3 separate regions of the Homo sapiens genome follow, and all the other regions are linked to region 1. The links come from fine-mapping of genetic effects on gene expression. A gene starts in region 1. Each other region holds a variant in brackets. All regions are shown on one strand. Distances are from middle to middle. Region 1 holds the start of LCLAT1 (lysocardiolipin acyltransferase 1). Region 2 overlaps LCLAT1 (lysocardiolipin acyltransferase 1). Region 3 overlaps LCLAT1 (lysocardiolipin acyltransferase 1).

Region 1 (8,185 bases):
AAACATATCACAATTTACTCATCCATTCTACTGCTGATGTACAATTGAGTTATATCCAATTTTTGATTATGAATAAAGGCACTATAAACATTCTTTAACATGTTTTTTAGTTTAACATGCATTAGTTTCTCTTGAGTATACCTAGGAATGCAAGCATTTGATCACGGGTAGGAGTAGACAAAGCCACAGTCTTCCAAAGTGACTGTACCATTTGACATCCCCACCAACAATATGTAAGAGATCCAGTTGGTCTACACCCTTGCCAACACTGGCCCCCACCAACAATATGTAAGAGATCCAGTTGGTCTACACCCTTGTCAACACCGGCACTGTCCATCTTTTTAATTTTAGTTATTCTGGAAGGTGTATAGCAGTATCTCATTATTGTTTTAATTTATATTTCCCACTGGCAAATAATGTTAAGTACCTTTTTATGTGCATACTGGCCATTCTGAGACCCTCTAATAGACAGTGCCTGTTCAAGACATCTATGCATTTTTAAAATGATTTTTCTCATTAATTTTGTTTATGCTACACACACACAAATAAACACACACACACGGTATGAGTCCTTGGTCAGATATATAAATTGCAAATTTCTTCTTCCGGTCCATATTTTGCTCTTCATTTTCTTAGTGGTGTCTTCAGATGAAGAGAAGTTTCCAATTTTAAAGAAGTCTGAAGACAAATTTATCAATCATTTTCATGATCATTGCTTTCTGAGTCCTTTTTAAGAATCTCTGCCTATTCCAGGCACTAGTCCTTTATTTGCGCTTATGGTTTCAGCAGTTCTCCCCCTTGCTTTGACTTCATGAAATCCTGCATCTTTTGCAAGATTTGCACACCCTACCTTGTAGTCGATTTGCACTGCATTCATGTTATGTTGTTAGGTGCTGGACAACTTTAGTGTTACACACGTTTAAGTGGAGATCAGCTTTAAAACTAGAGAAACCATCAGTGATTACTTCCATATTACAATGATTTCTGTACAAATATATTCAAAACCTAAAGTAAAAAGAAAAAAATTCTAACACCCATTATCCTAGCATTTTTGTAGCATAAAGTGGAAGCTATGCATCTAATCGAGATCCTTCTACAGTTCCCACTGCCCGCAGGAGAGTTCCCACTCTCTTAGCTAAGAGTTCACAACCTGGCTCTAACCTTTCCTGGCTTCTCTCCCAGCAACACCTGTAATACTGTGGTCTGACCCCTGGACACCATGAGCTCTCACTTGTCCTAGCTTTGCTCTGTTTCTCCCTACGCCTTTATCCTCCAGTTAGCTCCCTTCCTCTTCTGGCCAGGCCCATCCCAGAAGAAGTAACTGTTCCCTTTTATGTGCTCTCACAGGTCTCTGTACCCACAATTATATTTGAGTCCTTATCATGCTTTATTAGTTAATCATTTATTTATTTGTCTCAACTGTCTACAAACTTCTGGACCTGGGACTTCTCCCTGAACTCCTCAAGGGTAGGGTCAGGAGTTAATGTTTACATCCTAAAGACTTGGCAGGGCTATTCCATAAAGGTTCAATGAAACAATAAATGTCCTAGCCACTTTTACTCATCCTATTTTATTAATAAATAAAGACTGGAAAAATTAGCACAAGTATATCAAAACAACAAGCTTAACTAAAATCAGTTTTCTTTTAAAAGTCCCCCAGCAAATTATTCTTTTAAAAAATGTAATAAAAACAAAAATCCCAATTATTGATTTGTGCTTCCTGATAGAAATTAGTCATAACTAGCCAGGCACAGTGGCTCACACCTGTAATCCCAACACTTTGGGAGGCTGAGGCAGGCGGATCACCTGAGGTCGGGAGCTCAAGACTAGCCTGACCAACACAGAGAAACCCCGTCTCTACTAACAATACAAAATTAGCCAGGCGTAGTGGCACATGTCTGTAATCCCAGCTACTCAGGAGGCTGAGGCAGGAGAATCGCTTGAACCCGGGAGGCAGAGGCTGTGGTGAGCCGAGATCGTGCCATTGCACTCCAGCCCTGGCAACAAGAGCGAACCTCCCTCTCAAAAAAAAAAAAAAAAGAAATTAGTCATAACTCTGTTTCAAAATAACTTTTTAATTAATGGGCAACACAAGTAAGAAGAATATACCACTTAACCAAAGTAAATGTAATTGTTACCACACAAATCACTATTGGACGCCAATGGAATAAACCATGATTATTATTTACACAAGATCACAAACAAAACTACTGGCTTGAAATATGTGTTCATTCTAGGACATTGCTAGAGCCTTTGAAAAAGAAAAATATATATATTAAAAATGAAAAATTTGTACATGAATTAATGTTTCCCCTTAATACATAACACATCTGTATGTCATAGGAAGATAGTAGGCATGGTGGTAGTAAGACAGTAAGAACACAGGCTGGAAACACAATGCTAATTGTGTGATATGGACAAATTACTTAAACTTCAATGTGCTTCAGTTTCCTCATCTGCAAAATAAAGATAATAAATGTATCCGCCTCACAGTGATGCTAGATGACTGAGTTGGCACATATAAGTCCCCGGATTCAGTGCCTGGCAGAGTACATGAATGCAGAGGAATAAATTTCAAATATTTTCACTGTTTTTTTAACTTTTTAAAGCCCTTTCACACATACTGTCTTTTCTTTTTCCTCCCAACAGTGCAATGAGATTGTTTGAATAAGAAATACTCACTTTAGAGATAAGACACCAATAGTGAAGTTGTATGATTACCCTAAGATATTTTTAAGTGGCAGAGTTTGGACTAGAATCCACCCATAACCTCAACCCCAGGACAAACTGACCAAATCTCCATGGATCCAGTTTGGAAGAATCTTTTGGGTTTTCCCCATTGCTTCCTCCTGGTTGTCAGCAACAGCCAGCCTAAAGACCTGGTGGGGGCAGATGCAGACGACCATGTGTTCAAATTAAAAAGTAGGAGAAGCCTAGCTTTCACAGAAACTGACACATAGTTGGCACTCCAGAGATTGCAGCTATTGATGACTGAAACACAAGCGCTATTACGTTTTTCTCAGTTACAGAACAAGGTACTACTCCATAAAATCAAGCCTACTACCAAAAACAAAAGTCAGTTAACATTATGCTTATCTGTCATATCAAGCATATCAAAGTACAATGTGCAACAGAAACCTAAACGAAAAAGTGATGATGTATTTTTACTTACTCTCAAAAAATATGTTTTACAAAAAGGGCTTTCATCAAGTCAGTTTTTTGAAAACTAACCCACGTAGTTATACTTCATGAGATGACGTTTCTTTGAACAAATAAGTTAATGATATGAATAAATATTTCATCTTGGTAATGCCTTCAACACATATCTTCAATACTTTTCTTGGACTTAAAGTGACTTCAATCCCTAATCTCATCTACTGCCATGTACACAAGAAACACAGTTAATGAACTTTAAAGGCAGATGCAGTATTTCCAGGGAAGCCACCTGAACCAGGGAAGTACAAGAAAGCAAAACATCTCCACAACCACATCTAAGTGCCTTATCTTTCAACTTCTTTTCTTCAAATGGGCAATTAGAAGCTACGATACACCTTAAAGATCAGGTTTGGCATCCGCCCTGGCTAGGGCCTACCTTTCTTTTCGCGGCACTGCCACTCTGGCACCTACAGGCAGGCCTTTGGCGCCTGCAGGACTCGCAGGGAAGACAACCCCAGCCCCTGCTCTCCACGGCTCTCGTCGAAGCCCCGCACGTGGTGACCACTTGAGACGTTTTAGTGCATGGGATTTAACAGGGTCAGACCTCAGGTTGCGTTCCGGGACAGTGCAGCTCCCAGACCCGCTGAGGTCGCAGGAGGAAGGTTTTGACGCTCCTAGCGTAAACACCGACGGGACCCTCTTCGCCCCGCGGCTACCTCGCCCTCGCCGCTCGCGCGGCCCCTCAGCACCTGACGCCTCAGCCAGCCTCCAGGAGTCGCTTCCCCGCGCCTCCTTCCACCTGAGCCAGCGACGCTACCGCCACCTGCACCGGGACCCCAAATGCCAGGCCAGTGGCCGTTACCCGAGGTCGCGGCCCGGGGAAGGTCCATGGCTCAGGAGGAAAAGCCCGGGCTGCAGCTCCCCTTCCTGCACCTCTGAGATCCCCCGGCCGCCGCCATTTTCCTCGCGCCGTAACCCCACCTGATAGTTCCAGCCTCCCACCTGTGACAAGCAGGGCACGCCGCGCGACGCCGAGTGGGGTGCGTGGGCAAGCTGGGGCTCCGTAGGGGTCACAACCTCCGTGCGGAACCCGCCGTTAATTCATCCCGTAACGCGGAGGCGTCCGGCCGTCGCCCTAGTAATGCGTCCCGGAAGGCTACGTCCTGATTGGCTGCAGGCGCCGTGACGCAACGGCGTCCCCGGCTGCGTGGGAAACCCGGGTCCCCGGCGCCCCGCGCTTGCTCCACAGCCCGGGATACCCCGGGTACCTTTCTTTGAGAGCTCCTTTAAAGAGGCCTCGCTTATTTCCTCGTCTGGCCTCCTGGAGAGGAGGGACCCACGGAACGGTGGGGTGTAGGGGTGAGAAAACAACGAAATAGGAAATTAGCGGAGGTCATTTGTCCGAGGGAACCTAATGGTTCATTCAACCCCTAGAGCTGCAAAATGGAAAACAGAAATCTGGGAGTTTAATTTACAAGCCTAAATTTGGTGCGCGAAGTCACAGGACAAATCAGTAGTAGAAGCAGTTATAGAACCCAGGTTCCCTGATCAGGAGCACAAAGTTTTTCTAGCACACTCAGTGTTTCCCCAGTCCTAGAAAATGTTTCCTCCCAGTTCCCATAGCAATTTCATCACACTGCTCTTAAAAGGTCTCGATCACCTATCATGGTGTGTCTGTCCTGTCCCCTAACCTACTAGATTGCATGCCCCTGAATGGTGGGGACTGTGGTTAAACCCCTTTTCATTTCCCTTAAGCAATTCCCTCCTCAACTTGGCCTTCAACAAATACAATAAGAATCTTAAAAATAATAAACATAGCTACACATCACACACAGCCACTCATCAGTAGTTCATGTATGTCTATACGTTTTATCCGTTTATTCAACAAAGCACAGAGTGAATATTTTTAAAATTACAAGGTTCCTGACCTCACAAAATTTATGGTGTAATAATAATGACCATCTACATGTTGGCTGCATAGCTTCAATATAGCTAAATTATATCCCCAAATTGCCTGTAAATCAAAGATTCTTGTGCTCTTTTCCTAAATTAGCTTCATAATTTCTCTAAGTTTGTTCCAAAACATTTTAATATTTAAGATGTGCTAAAATTGCATCAGAAAGTGAAGAATGACTACAGAGAGAAACACCAGAACAAAAGTCAATTCTGCCAATTATGCCTATGACTTTAGGCCTCCTTTTTACCTTTAAAATAAGATTACTGGAATAAAAGATCTCCCAATTCTTTTTTGTTGTTGTTAAGAGTTGGCCTGGCTATGCTCCAGAACCTTCAAGGGCTCTACTGTGGTTCTTTGGGGGCTTGCCGGAGGTTCCTCATAGCCTTTGCAGCTCCATTGCAGAGAGCTCTAGCATTGTGAGGTGTGTCCGGTGATACAGCCCAAGAGGCAAGGTTGCCCTTACCGCCCTAACCACAGAGGACAGTGCTGGGCTCTTTCTTTTTTCTTTTCTTTGCTTTTTTTTTTTTTTTTTTTTTTTTTGAGACAGGGTCTCGCTCTGTCACCTAGGCTGGAGTGCAGTGGCATGATTGTGGCCCACTACAACCCCTGCCTCCTGGACTCAAGCAATCCTCCCACCTCAGCCTCCAGACTAACTGGAACTACAGGCATCTGCCACCATGCCCAGCTAATTTTGTGTTTTTTGTAGAGACAGGATTTCAACATGTTGCCAGGCTGGTCTCGAACTCCTGAGCTCAAGCTATCCACCCACCTTGGCCTCTCAAAGTGCTGGGATTAGAGGCTTGAGCCACCGCGCCTGGCCCTGAGCCCGTTCTTGATCTGAGCTACTGATCAGTAGCCACCTTCCACGTCAACTGCTAAAGGGATAGGAACAGAATTCCCAAGGGCAAAATATGCTGATTTCTAAACTCAGAGATCTGCTAAGTGTCATGCTTCTTTCTTTTTGGCAGAGGTGCAAGGTGTAGTAACATGTTTTTCATTCTGGGGAAAATGTCTTGACGTGCCCAAGATCATTGGACCACTTCAGCATCCAAAATGATGTATAGTTTACATAATGCTATTGTACCAGGATCATTCTTTGTTTTGATACATGTTCTATGCTTACACAAGATGTTGACATAAGGGGAAGCTAGGTAAAGAATATATGGAAAAATCCCTGTACTCTCTTTACATCTCTCCTAAGTCTAAAACTACCCCCCCAGTTTTTTAAATAATTATTTTAAAATATCACCAATGTAGCAAGCTCCTGAATTTTTGTGGGGTTTATCCGCGTCTGAAATGTATGTATTTCATCAAGACATCCAGAGAAGTAGTCCCCGACCTTTTTGGCACCAGGGACTGCTTTCGTGGAAGACAGTTTTTCCATGAACGGGGTGAAGGGTGAAGGGGGTGATTTCGGGATGATTCAACCACATTACATTTATTGTGCACTTTATTTCTATTATTATTACATTGTAGTATATAACACTTAAAAAGTGGTGTTAATCTGTGCTCTACTGTCCCAAAGGGACAAGTTTCTCAATCTTTCCTGACCCCAGTAACAGAGCATCACAGCTGATGAATTGCTGAACCTCATGAGCCATTGACTTAATGGTCACATTTAATAGGGCACTCTCTGTAATGCTCAGGGACACACTATGACATACAGGAAATCTCAAGTCCTAGTTCTTATTGTACTTTTGTCATTATTGGGGTACTTTCTATGCCCATGTAATTGCTCACTCCTCTTCAAAATGTGAGAGTAATAAGGGAAAATCTGTGCTCAATAACAGACCTCAGAAAAGAGCCAAGTACATTGCCGCCAATAAAATCGGAGCAAGTCTCTCCCAAGGTAATGAATACAAGCAACATGCAGCCCAGTGCCAGCAGAGGCCACAGATACTTAACTGGAGGCCCAGAGTGGCCCATTTATTATAGCCTACAGTTTATTGCTTGCAAGCAAGAATTGCAAAATTTCTTTTGCAATTCCCTCTTTGCAAAAATTTCTATGAATGAGACTTAGCATTACCTAATATCACCAGTCATCCAACGAGATTCTGAAATTCAAAAGGCATTTGAAATGAAATGTTTTAATTTCTTGAGACATGGAGTAAGCCATGTCTTTGGTAGCTGAGGAGTTTTGGTGCTAGAAGGTACAGCTTGGAAGTAGTGACAAATTTACATTAGCACAAAACAGCTGTGGAGTCTAATTATTAATAGTTCTGATTATTCTCTTTTTGCTCCATCTCTCCCCTTCCCCGTTCCCCACCCCCATCTTTTTTGTTGTTGTTGTTGAGACAGAGTTTCGCTGTTGTTGCCCAGGCTGGAGTGCAATGGCACCATCCTAGCTCACCACAACCTCGGCCTCCCGGGTTCAAGCAATTCTCCTGCCTTATCCTCCCGAGCAACTGGGATTACATGCATGTGCCAACCACACCTGGCTAATTTTGTATTTTCAGTAGAGACCGGGTATCTCCATGTTGGTCAGGCTGGTCTTGAACTCCTGACCTCCGGTGATCCACCCCCCTCAGCTTCCCAAACTGGTGGAATTACAGGTGTGAGCCACCTCGCCCGGCCCCACCCCCATCTTTATGCTGACTTGTCCGGCTTTCCTCTCCTGACTCCTGGTCTTTTGCCTCTGGCAGGGTTTAGCCAATGGGAGGCCCTGGCTGGACTCTGCAGGGTGGGCTGAGAAACAGCTCAAGGCTGCATTCCCCTGGCTCCCTCCCTGTGGGGCTGCAGGGTGGCAGTGGCTTCAACACTTCACGTAAGGCCACAGCTCCTTGTCTAGAGCCCAGCTCTCACTGGATTCTGGGACCCACTCCCCGCCTTGTCCCTTTAGGCAGGGCCCACAGGGTGTGTGATGGCCTAACTTATTGTGTCTAGCCTCAGGGTACTTCATTGCCCTCTGTTAATTTCCCTTAACGCTGATTGTACCTTTGTAGTCAGCCTTCAACTCTCTTTAATCATCCCTCTGTGCCAAGGGTGTCACTTGTTTCTTGTGAAAACCTAACTGATATATTGATGGACCAAAATTTCACTTAGGCTAAAAAGATACAACTACCAGAAAGTATG
Region 2 (8,185 bases), 20 kb before region 1:
GGAGGTAAAAGACACTTTGAAAACCACAAAACATTAACAAATTAAGGAAAATCTAATATATGGAAGGATATACCAGGTTTAGGGATTAAAAGACAATACTGGCCAGGCACAGTGGCTCACGCCTGTGATCCCAGCACTTTGGGAGGCTGAGGCGGGTGGATCACTTGAGGTCAGGAGTTCAAGACCAGCCTGGGCAACATGGCGAAACCCTGTCTCTACTAAAAATACAAAAACTAGTCAGGTGTGGTGGCACACACCTGTAGTTCCAGCTACTCAGGAGGCTGAGGCAGAAGAATCGCTTGAACCCGGGAGGCGGAGGTTGCAGTGAGCTGAGATCACACCACTGCACTCCAGCCTGGGCAACATTGTGAGACTCTATCTTAGAAAATAAATAAATAGGCCGGGTGCAGTGGCTCATGCCAGTAATCCCAGCACTTTGGGAGGCCAAGGCAGGTGGATCACGAGGTCAGGAGTTCAAGATCAGCATGGCCAAAATGGTGAAACTCCGTCCCTACTAAAAATACAAAAAATTAGCCAGGCGTGGTGGTGGGCGCCTGTAATCCCAGCTACTCGGGAGGCTGAGGCAGAGAATTGCTTGAATCCGGGAGGCAGAGGTTGCAGTGAGCCAAGATCGCACCACTGCACTCCAGCCTGGGCAACAGAGCAAAACTCTGTCTCAAAAAAAAAAAAAAAAGAATGAATAAATAAATAAAATGAAAATAAATAAATAAAAGACAATACTATTAACATGGCAATACTACTCAAAGCAATCTACAGACTCAATTCAATCTCTATCAAAATTCCAATAACTTTTGCAGAAATGGAAAAGCCAATCACCAAATATGAATGGAATTCCAAGTGGTTCCAAGCAGCCAAAACAACACTGAAAAAGAACAAAGTTGGAGGACTCACACTTCCTAATTTCAAAACTTACTAAGAGGCTACAGTAATCAAAACAATGTGGTACTGAAACTGCCTTTGCAAAATTATAACAGTGAGAAAACCCTAACGTAGCTGACTCCATCTTGCTTCTAACCTCATAAGCTGTCTCTGCTCATTCCTGCACATAGGCCAAGCCAACTATGGGAGGAATTTAGTTTGTATTTTAACTTTAAAGCAAATATGATAATAGTCCTTTCCCAAAACTAACCCCCTCCTTGTTTAGAGACCAAAACCATCTTTGTAAAAAATAACAAAAGGACACAAGGTCAGAATTACAGTAGGAGCCTGAATTCTGCTAAGACTTAAGCATAGTTAAATAATAACAAGACACTATTTTCTAACTTGTCTTTTTTGTAATTACTTACTAGACAGGAGTCACTAGCCAGTGGTCATAAGACTTGTAACTTCCCCGATTACCCCAATAGATTACCTCATTATTGTAAAACCCAAGGCTGATTCTTGAGGTATTTTTCAGACCTCGTGTTCTGGTGGACCAACTGATGCCACCTGGGTTACTCATACCATGAAATTGACTCAACTGGCCCTGTAACCCCCACCCGAAACTGACTCGACACACAAGACCATTTTGACACTCGTGTGATTTCATTCCTGACCCAACCAATCAGATGCAGATTCTTGCTGGGCGTGGTGACTCATGCCTGTAATCCCAGCACTTTGGGAGGCTGAGGCGGGTGGATCACTTGAGGCCAGAAGTTTGAGACTAGCTTGGCCAACACAGCGAAACGCCATCTCTACTAAAAAATACAAAAATTAGGGCCAGGTGCAGTGGCTCATGCATGTAATCTCAGCACTTTGGGAGGCCGAAGCAGGTGGATCATGAGGTCAGGAGATCGAGACCATCCTGGCTCTCTACTAAAAATACAAAAAATTAGCTGGGCACAGGTGGCACATGCCTGTAGTCCCAGCCAGGTGTGGTGGTGGGCACCTGTAGTCCCAGCTACTCAGCAGACTGAGGCAGAAGAATCGCTTGAACCCCAGAGGCGGAGGTTGTAGTGAGTCCAGATCACACCACTGCACTCCACCCTGGGTGACAGAGCTAGACTCCGTCTCAAAAAAAAAAAAAAAAAAAAAAGAAGAGACCTGTAGCCCAATTAATTGAGAGTCCAGAATTATGACCATACATCTATGGCCAACTGATTTTCAACGAGGGTGCAAAGACCATTCAATGGAGAGAGAACAATATCTGTAACAAATGATACTACTGGATAGCTACATGCAAAAGAAGGAAGGTGTCCTCAAACTCATTCAAAATCTATCAAAAACCTAAACACAAAAGATAAAACTATAAAATTCTTATACGAAAACAAAGGTAAATCTTCACAACCTTGGATTTGGCAAGGGATTGTTACATGTGACACCAGAAACATGAGCAACAAAAGAAAAAAAAAATCAACTGGACTGCATCCAGATGAAACACTTTTGCACGTGAAAGACCACCATCAAGAAAATGAAAAGACAACCCACAGAATGGAAGAAAAATTCACAAGTCAAGGGTCTAGTATCCAGAATACATAAAGAACTCTTACAACTCAACAACAAAAAGACAAATAACTTTTTTAAATGAGTAAAGGACTTGAATAGATATTTCTCCAAAGAAAACATACAAATGGTTGATAAGCATAAGAAAAGCTACTCAACATCATACATCATTGGGGAAATGCAAATCAAAACCACAATGAGATATCACTATATACCCACTAGCATGGGCACAATTTTAAAAATGGAAAATAACAAGCATTGGTAAGGATGCAGAAAATTTGCAACCCTCATATATTGCTGGTGGGAATGTAAAATAGCAGTTTCTCAAAGAGTTAAATAAACCTTGAAAACATTATACTAAGTGAAGAAGACACAAAAGGTCACGTATTGCATAATTTCATTTATATGAAATATTCAGAATAGGCAAATCCATAGAAATGAAAGCAGACTGGTGGTTGCCAGAGGCTGGGTAGAAGGGAGCAACTGCTTAATGGTACACAGTTTCCTTTGAGGTGATAAAAATGTTTTGAAACTAGACAGCAGTGGTGGTGGCACAACACATGAATGTACTCAATGCCACTGATTTGTCCACTTTAAAATGCTTAATTTCTTGTACAGTAAATTTCACCTCAATTAAAAAAAAAACAGATATATATCAAATGGCTATTTTTTTTCCCAACTATCCACAGTGGAGGTCATTTACAAATGACCACAATGGAAATTTCAATTAATTTTGCAGGGCAATTGCCAAGTCAATCCTAAGCCAAAAGAACAAAGCTGGAGGCATCACACTACCTGACTTCCAACTATACTACAAGGCTACAGTAACCAAAACAGCATGGTACTGGTACCAAAACAGAGAGAGAGACCAATGGAACAGAACAGAGCCCTCAGAAATAATACCACACATCTACAACCATCTGATCTTTGACAAACCTAACAAAAACAAGAAATGGGGAAAGGATTCCCTATTTAATAAATGGTGCTAGTGCTGGCAAAACTGGCTAGCCATATGTAGAAAGCTGAAACTGGATCTCTTCCTTACACCTTATACAAAAATTAATTCAAGACGGATTAAAGACTTAAATGTTAGACCTAAAACCATAAAAACCCTAGAAGAAAACCTAGGCAATACCATTCAGGACATAGGCATGGGCAAGGACTTCATGTCTAAAACACCAAAAGCAATGGCAACAAAAGCCAAAA[C/T]TGACAAATGGGATCTAATTAAACTAAAGAGCTTCTGCACAGCAAAAGAAAGTACCATCAGAGTGAACAGGCAACTTACAGAATGGGAGACAATTTTTGCCATCTACTCATCTGACAAAGGGCTAATACCCAGAATCTACAAAGAACTCAAACAAATTTACAAGAAAAAAATCAAACAACCCCATCAAAAAGTGGGCGAAGGATATGAACAGACACTTCTCAAAAGAAGACATTTATGCAGCCAACAGACACATGAAAAAATGCTCATCATCACTGGCCATCAGGGAAATGCAAATCAAAACCACAATGAGATACCATCTCACACCTGTTAGAATGGCGATCATTAAAAAGTCAAGAAACAACAGGTGCTGGAGAGGATGTGGAGAAATAGGAACACTTTTACACTGCTGGTGGGACTGTAAACTAGTTCAACCATTGTGGAAGACAGTGTGGCGATTCCTCAAGGATCTACAGCTAGAAATACCATTTGACCCAGCCATCCCATTACTGGGTATATACCCAAAGGATTATAAATCATGCTGCTATAAAGACACATGCACACATGTTTATTGTGGCACTATTCACAATAGCAAAGACTTGGAACCAACCCAAATGTCCATCAATGATAAACTGGATTAAGAAAATGTGGCACATATACACCATGGAATACTATGCAGCCATAAAAAAGGATGAGTTCATGTCCTTTGTAGGGACATGGATGAAGCTGGAAACCATCATTCTCAGCAAACTATTGCAAGGACAAAAAACCAAATACCACGTATTCTCACTCATAGGTGGGAATTGAACAATGAGAACACTTGGACACGGGAAGGGGAACATCACACATCGGGGCCTGTCGTGGGGTCGGGGGAGAGGGGAGGGATAGCATTAGGAGATATACCTAATGTAAATGACGAGTTAACGAGTGCAGCACACCAACATGGCACATGTATACATATGTAACAAACCTGCACGTTGTGCACATGCACCCTAGAACTTAAAGTATAATTTAAAAAAAATAAAAAATAAATTTTGCAGGGCAAGCTTCTGATTATAATACAATAAAACTAAGAGTAATTCAAAACAAACAACCCTAAAGATTTGAAATTCTTAAGCCTTCCTAAATAACTGTTGAATTAATGAAAAAATTAAAAATATATAAGACTTGTAGTTCCCATATGCTGATGTTAATCCAGATTACCAGGGGGTGGGGAGCTTGTTAAAAATGCAGAAGCTCAGGCCCTATACCCAGTGTTAAGTAGAATTGGAATATCTGCATTTTTAATAAGCCTGCCAGCTGAGACTGATATTCACCAAAGTTTAGAACCAGTGCAACAGAATATTTAGAAAAAATATAAAGACATCGCATATCAAAAGTTACAGGATTCATACAAAGCTGTACTGAAATAGTTTCTAAAATAGTATTTAAATAAACAGAACATAAACTAAGCAATGCAAATTTTAAAATCAAGCAGTCAAATTTTTAAAATAAAAGGTGTGATTAAAAAACAAAAATAGAAATATGGATGACAGTAAAAATGATTGATTAGATAACAACACACAGAAAGGGTCAGGCACATTGACTCATGCTTACAATCCCAGCACTTTGGGAAGCCAAGGTGGGAGGATCACTTGAGTCTAGGAGCTCCAGCCCAGCCTAGGTGGCAGTGAGACCCTGTCTCAAAGAAAAAAAAAAGAAAGCAGGAAAGAAAGAAAAGAAAAGAAAAGAAAAAAAGAAAACACAGAAAAAACAGCGGAACTTTAAAATGAGCTTGGTTCTTTATGAAAAAATTTACAAAGTCCTAACAATTCTAATAAAATAAAGAATTATCAAATAGGTAAAAGCAGAATTAGGAAATTTAATCATTTTTAATAAAGCAAGAAAAATAGTTTGTCAGCAAACTGAAAAAATACAACTCATCTAGACAACTCTAAGGAGTTACTTTATCAAAAATATAAGAAATTATATGTCAGTAAAAAAAATCAGAAAAAAATTAATTGTAACATTAGTTATATAATCTACCACTTGGTTGAAAAAAATAAAATTTGGGGAAAGTTTTAACAAAATGCAATGGACTTGAAATTCTTTCTGTTAAAGAAGACTTTTGTTCTTTCATGCCACTTCACTAATAAGAGAAATAAATACACTTTATTGTCCTCAATTCAAAAGCAAATCTCAAAATAATATAAATGATTCTAAATTACTCACTTTCCAGGCTTAAAAAAAGTCAAAATATTTCCTTATTAACTTTACTATTGAGGTTAACTTTTCATTTTAATGTCATTTTGGTAGAGTGTTTAGCCTGTTATTCAACACTGAGAACCAATAAATAACGGTGATTAGCAAAGAGTAGATAAGAATTAAGTGCTATTCACAATAATTAACATAGTAAATATAATGAATGAATCTTTCTTGTTTTAATAAAAGGGGCACAGCCCTTTTGTCTTTAGGGTGTACAGTAGTTTCCTATCGCTGCTGTAACAAGTTACTTGGTGGCTTAAAACAGAAAGTTATTCTCTTCCACTCCTAGAGGCCAAAAAAAGTCTGAAAGCAGTATCATTAGAACAAAAGCAAGGTCACACTCCCTCCAAAGGCTCCAGGTGAGAATCTGTTCCTTGCTTATTCCAGCTGTTGATGGCTGTGGGAATGCCTTGACTTGTGGCCGTTAACACTCAAATCTCTACCTCCTGGTCCAACTGCCTCCTCCTCCTCTGTGTACGTATAATCTCCCTCTGCCTCACTTTGATAAACATACACAGGATTGCTTTTAGGGACCACTCACATAATCCAGGATAAGTGCCCTAGACATCAAGATCCTCAATTTAATTACAAAAACCATTTTTTTTAACATACAAGGTAACATTTCACAGGTTCCAGGATTAGGACTTGAATATTTTAGAGAACCATTTTCAGCCTACCACAGAGGATCTCTTTAAAAACCTAACAGGCCTGGCCAGGCATGGTGGCTCATGCCTGTAATCCCAGCTCTTTGTGGGCAGACTGCTTGAGCTCAGGAGTTTGAAACCAGCCTGGGAAACATGGCAAAATTCCATCTCTATGTAAAAAATAAAACAAAAAGTAAATAAAAATTTAAAAAGAACAAAAACAAAAAAACCCTAATAGGCCAAGCCTTTTCGTCAGGAATTAGATACTATCCTAGTCTCCAGATTTACAATGACAAGGTCATAGGCCTTCTGACCCTAGACACTGCAAACAAACACCACTGAAATTAACTCGGGAATTTCATCAGGTGCACAGGAAACTATCACAGGGTATATCCATTTGCCCCAAGAATACAAGAGAAGTTTTGTCTGTTTCACTGTATGAGTTAAATTCTGCTCAAATTTTGTAGTCTCAAACTACCTATCTGCACGTATCTGACATGCAAATAAAAACAGAGCGTTCTTTCTCTTCTACATTGGTAAGAAGGGGTCTTTTTGTTGGCAAGATTTTCTTATTGCCCCAACATACTTTATAGAGTTGGGTAATAATAAACTAAGTTTTTAAATAAATTTGAGACAAACTACTTTCCAAAGGCAGCAAAATTTATTTTTATCCTCTAAATTTTTCCAGACACACAATTTCAAGACCCACTAGCCCTTGAATCTCCTCCAGAATCAAGCAGTTTCATTCCATAAAATCAAAATAAATTCCAGATGAATTAAAGAGTTACATGTAAAATATGAAAACATTATAGAATTACAATAGGAAAATGGGCCAAGAATCAAGAGTCACATACAAAAATGAACACTAAAAAAAAAGGGAAAGAAATCAGACTAATATGTAGCATGACACCATGTTTCCAATTACTTTTTCATATTTGACAATGATAGTATCCAGCAAAGTGAGGGCATAGGAAAATAAGGCCTCAAACATACAATTGCTAAGAGAATCAACTGATAGAGCCCTTTTAAAAGGCAAATTCAGCATGGCTGGCAAATTATAAAACACATATACATTTTTACACAATAATTTCATTCTAATCTATCCTACAAAAGTACTCATAAAAGTAAGAAAAGATAAAAATGCTCACGGAGGCACTATTTGTATGTGAAAATTAGAAATAGTATAAACGTCCATCAACAGAGAAATGGTTAAATTATGGCATAGCCATATAACTGGAATATTATGCAACCAGTTTTTAAAAAGTGAAGCACAGTCATCTAATATCCATGGGGGATCTGTTCCAGGGCCTCTTGAGGACATCAAAATCAACATATGCACAAGTTCCTTATATAAAATGACATCATATTTGCATATAGCCTGCTCACATCCTCCAAAATACTTTATCTCTAAATTACTCATAGTATCTAATACAATGTAAATGCTATATAAATAGTTATATTGTTTAGGGAACAATGACAAGAAAAAAGTCTGTACATGTTCAGTGCAGAGGCAATTCTTTTTCAAATATTTTTGATCCATGGTTGGTTGAATCTATGAATGCAAAACCTGTGGATACAGAGGGGCTGACTATACATTAACATAAGCAGTCATTCAGAAAGGTAGACATGACCCGTGAAGTGAAGAAAGCAA
Region 3 (8,185 bases), 200 kb before region 1:
TTGGTGAATCATATCAAAAATACTTTTATTCTTGTCAAAAAATCTATTTTCCAGAAGTAGATGGACTTGCACTTCAATTATTATTATTATTATTTTTGAGACAGAGTCTCGCTGTGTTGCCCAGGCTGGAGTACAGTGGCACAATCTCAGCTTACTGAAACCTCTGCCTCCTGGATTCAAGTGATTCTCCTGCCTCAGTCTCCTGAATAGCTGGGATTACAGGCGCCCGCCACCACACCTGGCTAATTTTTGTATTTTCAGTAGAGATGGGGTTTCACCATATTGGCCAGGCTGATCTCAAACTCCTGACCTAAGGTGATCCGTCTGCCTCAGCCTCCCAAAGTGCTGGGATTACAGGCATGAGCCACCACACCTGGCCTTTTTAAAAAAAAAAAATAAAATAAATTTAAATTTTATTTTATTTTAAATTTAAATTTAAAAAATTTAAAAAAATTTTTAAATTTTAAATTTGTAAACTTCTCCACCCAGCTTTCATTTAAAACAAACAGGATGCTTTATGAATGACTTCAAGCAAACATCATTAAGAATGTATTGTGCAAAAAGAATGGCTGGGCTGAACACTGTTTGGGATAAGAGAAATGAAAGCTTATAATCCAATGGAGGTGATAAGATTGAAAAATAACTGTAACATAAGACAGCTTGTAATACACTCAAGCGAGAGCTGCAGAGAAATATCATCCATGATAGGAGGAGGACATTTCAAGCTAGATTGAACAGGATAAGCTTCAGAGAAAAAGTGGGATTCAACTAGACTCGGGCTGGTTAAGAAAGCACCTTTCACAAATGAGAAATATGTGCAAAGTTGGGAAAGGGAGAGGGGACATGAGGAGGTTTGGGCAACCAGCTGTGCTCATATGAAAAGGTTCGCACAGGAGAAAATGCCTAGAAACAAGGTTAAGCCTAGGCTAGAGGACCCAGGGGAGGCAGAGGTGTCTAGACTGTCCAGCAGTTGGTAGGAAGCACTGCATTATGAGAAGGGAAGCTCCATGATAAAACTGGTGTTGCAGTATGATCAAGGAACAAGTCCAGTGCACCAGGATTGGCATCGGGAGAATGTGGGAGCAGGAAACTGATTGGATGTTGCCAGACCTGCCCAGGTCTGATGCAATAGTTGTGTGCAGAACACAAGTAAGAAGGGCCCTGAAGAGGAAGACACGGGTGGTAGTGACAGCTTGAGTGTCCAGGAAGGAGGGACGCTGCAATATTCTGAACCTGCAGCACTGGGAGAATGTGAACTGCCTCTGCCAACAGGGAGAGCCATTAGAGCTGTAGTATTTACACTTCAAGAAATTTCCCATAAGGAAATGCTCTCAATACTGATCTCTGTGGAGGCAATGACTGAATAATTCAGATGGACCAATTGTTGATGAGATTGTCCAGACACAGCTATGGAGAACCCTTAGGTTCCCAAGTAACCCCTGATGTGGATAGACAAGGCTGCTCAGCCTCTTGATGCCTCTCACTGCACAGGAAATCACAGTCATTTGCTCCAGCCTCCCAGTCCTCTCTCCACTGGGAGGCTGGGAAATTTGATAGTTGTGGTGGACATTTGTGGTAATTTGGCCATCCAGCGTCAGTTCATCCTGTTCTTGATAACAAGTGTTTAATTTTTGTCTTAAAAGTCATCCCTCCCCCATCCATGCTGTCCAGGTTACTCAACAGGCTCCGCAAGTAACCCAGGGCTGTAACACACATCATGTATCTGGGCAATTGACTGGTCCAGGAATGGGCACTGAAACCCAATATGGGGTTGCTGTTGCGCCATAGGGACAGCAGTCTCTCTTGTTCTTTCCCACTGGACTTGAACCTGAGAGGATGCAGGGCTGAAGTGGCTGCAGGCACCATGCCACCCTACATGGATCCTGCAAATCAAGCCAAGGACAGCACAAGTTCTCTTTAGTAATTTAGTTTAAAAATATCAGTATGAAGGTGCACTGTATATGTGTGGATTAGTATCTTATGTCCATCCCAGGACATACTAGCTGGAATTTGAAGCCCTCACTAGAAATCCACCCTCCAGAGAGGGTTGCTTAAGCCTTTTATATAATTTATCAGTGAAATGAATAATGCTGAAGCTAAGTAGGTGGTGAGAAACAAAACCCTTCTCTTCCTTTTGCTTAAACGGAGGACAGGAGTCCCACAAACCCAATGTCCCAGTCTGTGGGACTGGCGCTCTTGGGGCCGGGTCTGTGCTCTTCTGGTCCTGCATTCCCCTTTCCCAGGGAACAACGTTGTGGACTCCCCTCCACATGAATCTATCACACAAAGTGCTCACTTGAGAAGACAGAGTGGGGCATTGCAGAAGGCCCCATTACAAGAGGCTCCGTGATTCTCATGTGTTTGTCTGTTTGCTAAGCACATTTTTATACATTTGTCAGATTTTGGTCCAAGATTTGCTTTTATAGTTATATACTCCCCAACGTGAGGTCAGGGACTGGAGCACAGAGTCCCACTTATCTTAGGTAAGAGTTGGTCATGCTGATATTTATATAAGATCCCACATTTGTGGAACAACCAAATTGTTCTCAATAGCAAGGCTGTGCTAAGAGATGGAGGAAAATCAAGTTCTGATGACATTCGTTGAGTCCTTAATTCAATTGTGGTGCCTGGACTTTTCCTATTATGGAGGTAGTACATTGTTTTCTTGATTAGGCCACTTTTCTTGACATCTGTGGAAAAAAGAGACCTAACTGGCCAGGTTTTTCCTTAACACTAGACACTGCAATGCAAGGCATTGTGGGGAAAAAAGTAGCACCTTAACTTGCAGTTACTTGTTATTCCTGCAAAAACAGAACGTAACACACATGTAAACTATTTAATTCACTCCTTTATTCTGGGATGTATATTACAGATAACACAACTCACAAATATACCATCAGACATTGAAAACTAAGGCCATTCTGTGAGTTATTTTTAAAACTTGGTGTTTTGCACATAATGATCTTAAAAAAAAATGAATTACCAAAACCAAGATTCTCTTCTAAAATGAAAATTTAATGCAGGTACAGGATAACTTTAGGGCTATATCTAATCTGAAGCTTATCAGGTAGCAAAACCATTTTCGTTTTCTACAGCATAAATAACAGCTCTAAGGCAACCACTACCTCAGCATGAAGCTCATTTCTCCACGTTAGAGTAGTGTTTACCTGCTACAGTGACCAGTGTTTAGAGACCATTTCCCTTTCAGTAGCAAAAAGAGACTTTACCTAAGAAACACACTACATACTACAGAATCCTTGGAACAAGAAACAGAAAGGGAGCTGTAACTAAGGCACTGAAAGCACATTATTTGTATAAAGAAATGTAAACAATTTAACACCAACAGGCTCCCTCCGTTGGAGTCTTTATTGTAAATGCACACAGGGGCATCATAGTCAGGGCTAGAGTTTGAAGTCTGGGTGAAACAAATGTTTCTGCAGAGTTCAGAGTCTTGGCTGCCAATATATTTCTAACATGGTGCTGTTGAATTAACTATTTCAAAGTGACTCAAGTGGAAGCTGGTATTTCCCTTGAATCTGAGTTTTAATAGCATTAACAAACAAGGAAGAATTTTATAGGAGTCCTAAAATTACGGGCTCTTTCTAACATTTATTTGAGTCTTTTATCAAGTTCTTCTAATGAATTTTAGGATTATTTTGGCTTATTTCATCAAGGAAGTTTGGTGTAAGAACTTGTTACCTAATGAGTGCCCCTCCTTGTAAGTTCATATTTCAAGTTACATGGTTCATGCCATAAATAAACCACACTTGCTTTAACATCGTTCAGAATGGTACATTTAACAATTGGACATACAGCACTGTAAACAATTCAAAGTCCATTGAGCTTACCATGAAAGAACTGAAACGTATGTAGGAACTGTGTCCTGCTGCAGACAAGCAGCTGCTCTGGCTCTGGTGCGGTGCGGTGCAGTGAGGTGAGGTGGGCAGGTGTGGAAGGGAGAATTCCTGAGGCCAGTCACAATTATTGAAGCTAAATTAATTTCTTCCTGACACTTTAGCATTAATTCTAAGTAGTTCTAAGTTCTAAACCATTAACTGTATAGTTAATTTTTTTAAATCAAAGAAGAAAAAGGCTTTCACACAGATGAATGTATAGGAAAACACAAGTAATGACAATTTTCAAGAGCCTTATTGTAAAAAAAGAAAGAAAGAAAAAAGGACAATTATTTTTGGAGTTACTGTCTCTAATTCTTAAAAAGTAAGTACAGTGTCTGTATCTCTAAGTTTTAGTGCTATACAGCACTAAATGTACTTTATGAATTTGGGGTAGGTAAAGTTTGTATTTTATCTTAAACATGTTTTCTATGATGAAAAGGAACAAAATTGTAAAAAATGAGGATCTTCCCTCTAAAGGTTTCAAAGCGTTAGAGGACATGCAATTAAATGTTGTTACACCTTGAACAATGAGCCTCTTGAGTTTGTAGGAAGGGCAGACCGGCTCCATTACCAACAACTTTGGGGTAGAAAGCACAGCTCTCCTCTTTTACCCAGCACAAATGCAATCCTGATTATAAAACTATTTGTGTTTCTAAATACAACCAAAGGAAATCTTAGAGAAACATAAATTAGAAACCTCTTTTATTAAGGGGAAACAACAAAAAAAGGTGCTTTTTTAAAAAAAAAAAAAAAAAAAGAAAAGAAAAAGAAAAAACAAGCTGTAAAACCATGAAGTTAAAGAGCTGGGTCTGGAGCAGATGTGCATAATAACTAGTTAGTTGCTCCCAGCAGGATCAGAAACAGCTTTGGGGGAGCAGAGGAATATGGGTTGGTGTGTTTCAGAAGAGGCACCAGTTAATACTCTTCCAATAAAAATGATGTGTCAACAGTGTTCAGCCTCAACCAGTGCTTTCTCACAGAATCTGCTTGGTAAGTTCAGTTCACAATGTGTTTACCTTTCATGGCAATGCACGATGCAATTATTGGGTAGGTCACTGTCAAGCAAAAACGAGATATAATTACAGAGAAGGCATTAATGCCCAAAGAGTACATAAAGCAGTAAGTAGCTTCTGAGGCTGGTTCAATGCAGAAGTAAAACTAACAGGTTTGCTAACAGCTAAAGACTTTTAATTGCCTCATATTTTCTGCAGCTCTGACCAGCATCCTTCTTACA[C/T]GACAAAAAAAAAAAGAAAAAAAAAAAGAAAAAAAAGTGTGCAGCTCCAACAGAGTGAAAATGACAACACTTTTCTTTTGCCTCAGAAGAAGACTGGTGCTTGGTGTGCTGGATTTTCCACTGACTCCAAATGACAAGAATATTTGGGCAAACAATTGGTCAAAAGTGGGTTTAAATATTACTATTGAAAAAGGAAGGCTAAAACTAAAAAGAAAGATCACTTGCTATCATTATTAAGGATTAATTTTTGTGTTTCATTTTGGTTTTAAGGTAAAATTTGTCAAGGCTACAAGGGGTTGAGTAATTTAGGATAAACCATTACTGCCCTGTCTGCAAGCCATTTGTTGTTTTAATGGTAGATGTTAGATACCCAAGCACATGTAGAAAAAACAACCTTCCTTTTTTGGTAGGTTGTAAAGAAATATTTCAAAAGACAGTTTCTGACTGGAATGACAGAATGTTCTGAGTGTTCCTTTAAAAAAGTATGTGACTTCATGTATACCATTTTTAACAGAAAAAGCTACACCTGCCAAAATGTTGTAAGAAAACCAGCACTAAGCATGCAATACTGAGTGTGAGAAAGGAACTTAAACTGTATTACTTCCTATCTTTTAAAATTCAAACTAAAGTTTCAAAGTGGAGAGCCTGTGGTTGCTCCCTGAGTCCAGGTTTTATCTTCCACGAGAGAAAAGGGCACAGGTGGTCTTCTGACGTCTTGGTCAGCATACAATGTTATGAATAATGAAGGGCTTCCTGTCAAAATGCTTGATCGGTTTCACGACAAAGGGGGTTCCATTTTCTGATCTTAAGGATGAGATGGGTTTGGCGCAGGAAGAAGGACGCCAAGGGAGGGAGCCTGGGCACCACCTGCCTGAGTACCTGGAGGGACAGCGCTCACCTCAATGAGGTGACCTGGGCAGTCCAGTAACAGCATGTGATCCGGGCTGTTGTTGACGAGTTCCAGATCTGCCTCTGGTACGGGGAGTCTGTTAGGATTGGGCCTTTAAGAAAAATGTGTGTGTTCCTTGTCGCTAAAAGCCTGATGATTGTTTAATAATATTCTGGCCCAAGTTATTTCACCCCGATCACTCCCTGCTATGTACACAGTATCGAAATTACATTCAGAGATTAAAAAAAATTGTAGCAATATTTTTCCCACAAAATTAAGTGCAAAATATCTTTAACAAATAATGATGGCAGTAAGAAATATTCGACATAGTCATGCAAAAATGCATCTGAGCTTAGAAAGGTTTAGAACATTTCCAAAATATGCTCTAGGTTTTCACATGGCAAACCTTATAATCTTACTCATTTTTCTTTGAATTTAAATGTGGCTGTTTGTGTAAAAGTCGGTAACATGCAAGTTCTATGATCTCCAGTCCACCAAATATTCTCTCTTGCAGCACAAAGATTACAATGGTGATTATAAAATACCACTTAACAAGACTGTACAAATATATGAGTAGGCACATTGCAGGGCTGAACAGGGTCCAATACAGTATAGAGAGCAATTTGACCACAAGGACCCTGAGTTCAGACTTGCAAGGTGGAATGACACTCTGTCCGGTAAAATAAAAATTCTTCTCCCCTTGATAGAAGGAACGCAGCCTCTCTTCTTTCTCTTCCCACCGTTTGTGGCACCAGAGTTGAAGGTCCTCCTTGGATGTGGGGAGGGTGTCTATTGGATACCGGTGGACGTGAAAGTGGATTTCCCTGGGAAAGTCTCCTTGGAGGAGGTGCTTCTCTGATTGAGGAATGTTGTGAGGATACGCCACAGTGATATCATGGACAGCATCAAGGTTCTTACCTGGGTTTCGAAAAGATGAAAACATAGATTAAGCAGTGCTCAATTTGGGTGATAATGCTGATTCACACTGCAGGGCAGCACCAGAAACCGAAAAATCAGGACAGTGTGAACCACAATGAACAAACAAGGGTTAGAGATACTGGTGTTCCTGGACACCTGGGTCAATATTTACCAGTCATCTTTAGTTTTATTTCCTGCTTGCTAATTACCACAAAATATTTAGAAAGAAAATATCTTCATTTGCAGAAACAGTAATCTGCCATTCTAAAACTACTAAGCACATTAACTCAAATTTGAGATGGGAATTAAACATTACAGGGCTAGCTCCTTAAACACCAATAGAATTCAGTTTTGATACCTCCTATTAATATAGCCATCTCTCCAAATAAAAGTAGACTTTCTCACCTTTAACCCAATGTTACCACGATAGCTACTGAAAAGAAAAACTTAACTTAAAATCAGACTTAGGTGGTGAGAAACATGTGAAAACTACCATATACTTTTTTATTTTAAAAAACATCAACTTGAGCTACAGGGGCACACACCTGTAAGCCCAGGTACTCGGGAGGATGAGGTGAGAGAATCGCTATTGCCCAGGAGTTCAGCCTGGACAATACAGTGAGACTCCATCTTTAAAAATAAATAGATAAATAAACTTGAACTCCAAGTAAGACCCTGATCCTGTATCCTGTCATCCTGAATTTAACTTAGGGGGTAAAGTGTTTTCACTTAAACAGGCCAGAGTGCTAGATGCTGGAGATAGACAGTCAAGTAAGACATGGTCCTAAACCTCACTCAAGATGTTCTCAACGTAACTGGGGAGGCAGGCATGCATAAAGGCCTAAATAGACCTTATGGGAACACGTAAGGTGTTAGTAAAGGAGAGGAATGAGGTGGGGTAGTGGCAGAGCAAATGTTCTGGCAGAAAAGCACAGTGGGGATGGGAACACTAAAAGTGGGCAGGAGCCATGTGGTCCAAGACCCCATGTTATTCTTCAGAATTTAAACTCAATTCTGTAGGTGGCAGAGAAGCATTTTACATGGTGGAGAACTACTTAAGGATTTCAGACAGAAGGAACCCATATGTTTCATTTTAGCAAAGATTACTCTCTGCGGGCAGTGACCAGAATGGTTTGGAGAGGACCAAGGGCAAAAGAGGTAGAATAGTTTGATGGCTACTACAATACAGCAGGCAAGAAATGGAGAGGACGTAGGGGCCAAAAAAGACATGTCCAAAAAAGTTACAAG

What was found.
Region 2: its variant is fine-mapped to the expression of LCLAT1 in esophagus mucosa (GTEx, PIP above 0.99).
Region 3: its variant is fine-mapped to the expression of LCLAT1 in whole blood (TOPMed, PIP above 0.99).

The regions. Positions count from the first base shown.
Region 1 is chr2:30,443,357-30,451,541 of GRCh38, reverse strand. It overlaps LCLAT1 (lysocardiolipin acyltransferase 1), which reads right to left and starts at 4,296. Exons shown (of 6, transcript NM_001002257.3): 1 at 4,159-4,296. RefSeq lists enhancers at 3,132-3,868, 4,066-4,185, 4,396-4,455, 4,496-4,565, 3,869-4,606 and 1 more.
Region 2 is chr2:30,463,425-30,471,609 of GRCh38, reverse strand. The region is part of intron 1 of LCLAT1 (lysocardiolipin acyltransferase 1); the gene reads right to left. Among named protein-coding and RNA genes, the nearest start is that of LCLAT1, 20 kb to the right of the region's middle. The variant C/T (reference allele first, on the strand shown) is at 3,649.
Region 3 is chr2:30,638,869-30,647,053 of GRCh38, reverse strand. LCLAT1 (lysocardiolipin acyltransferase 1) reads right to left here. Exons shown (of 6, transcript NM_001002257.3): 6 at 2,829-6,937. The coding sequence ends at 6,435. Among named protein-coding and RNA genes, the nearest start is that of CAPN13, 160 kb to the left of the region's middle. The variant C/T (reference allele first, on the strand shown) is at 5,131.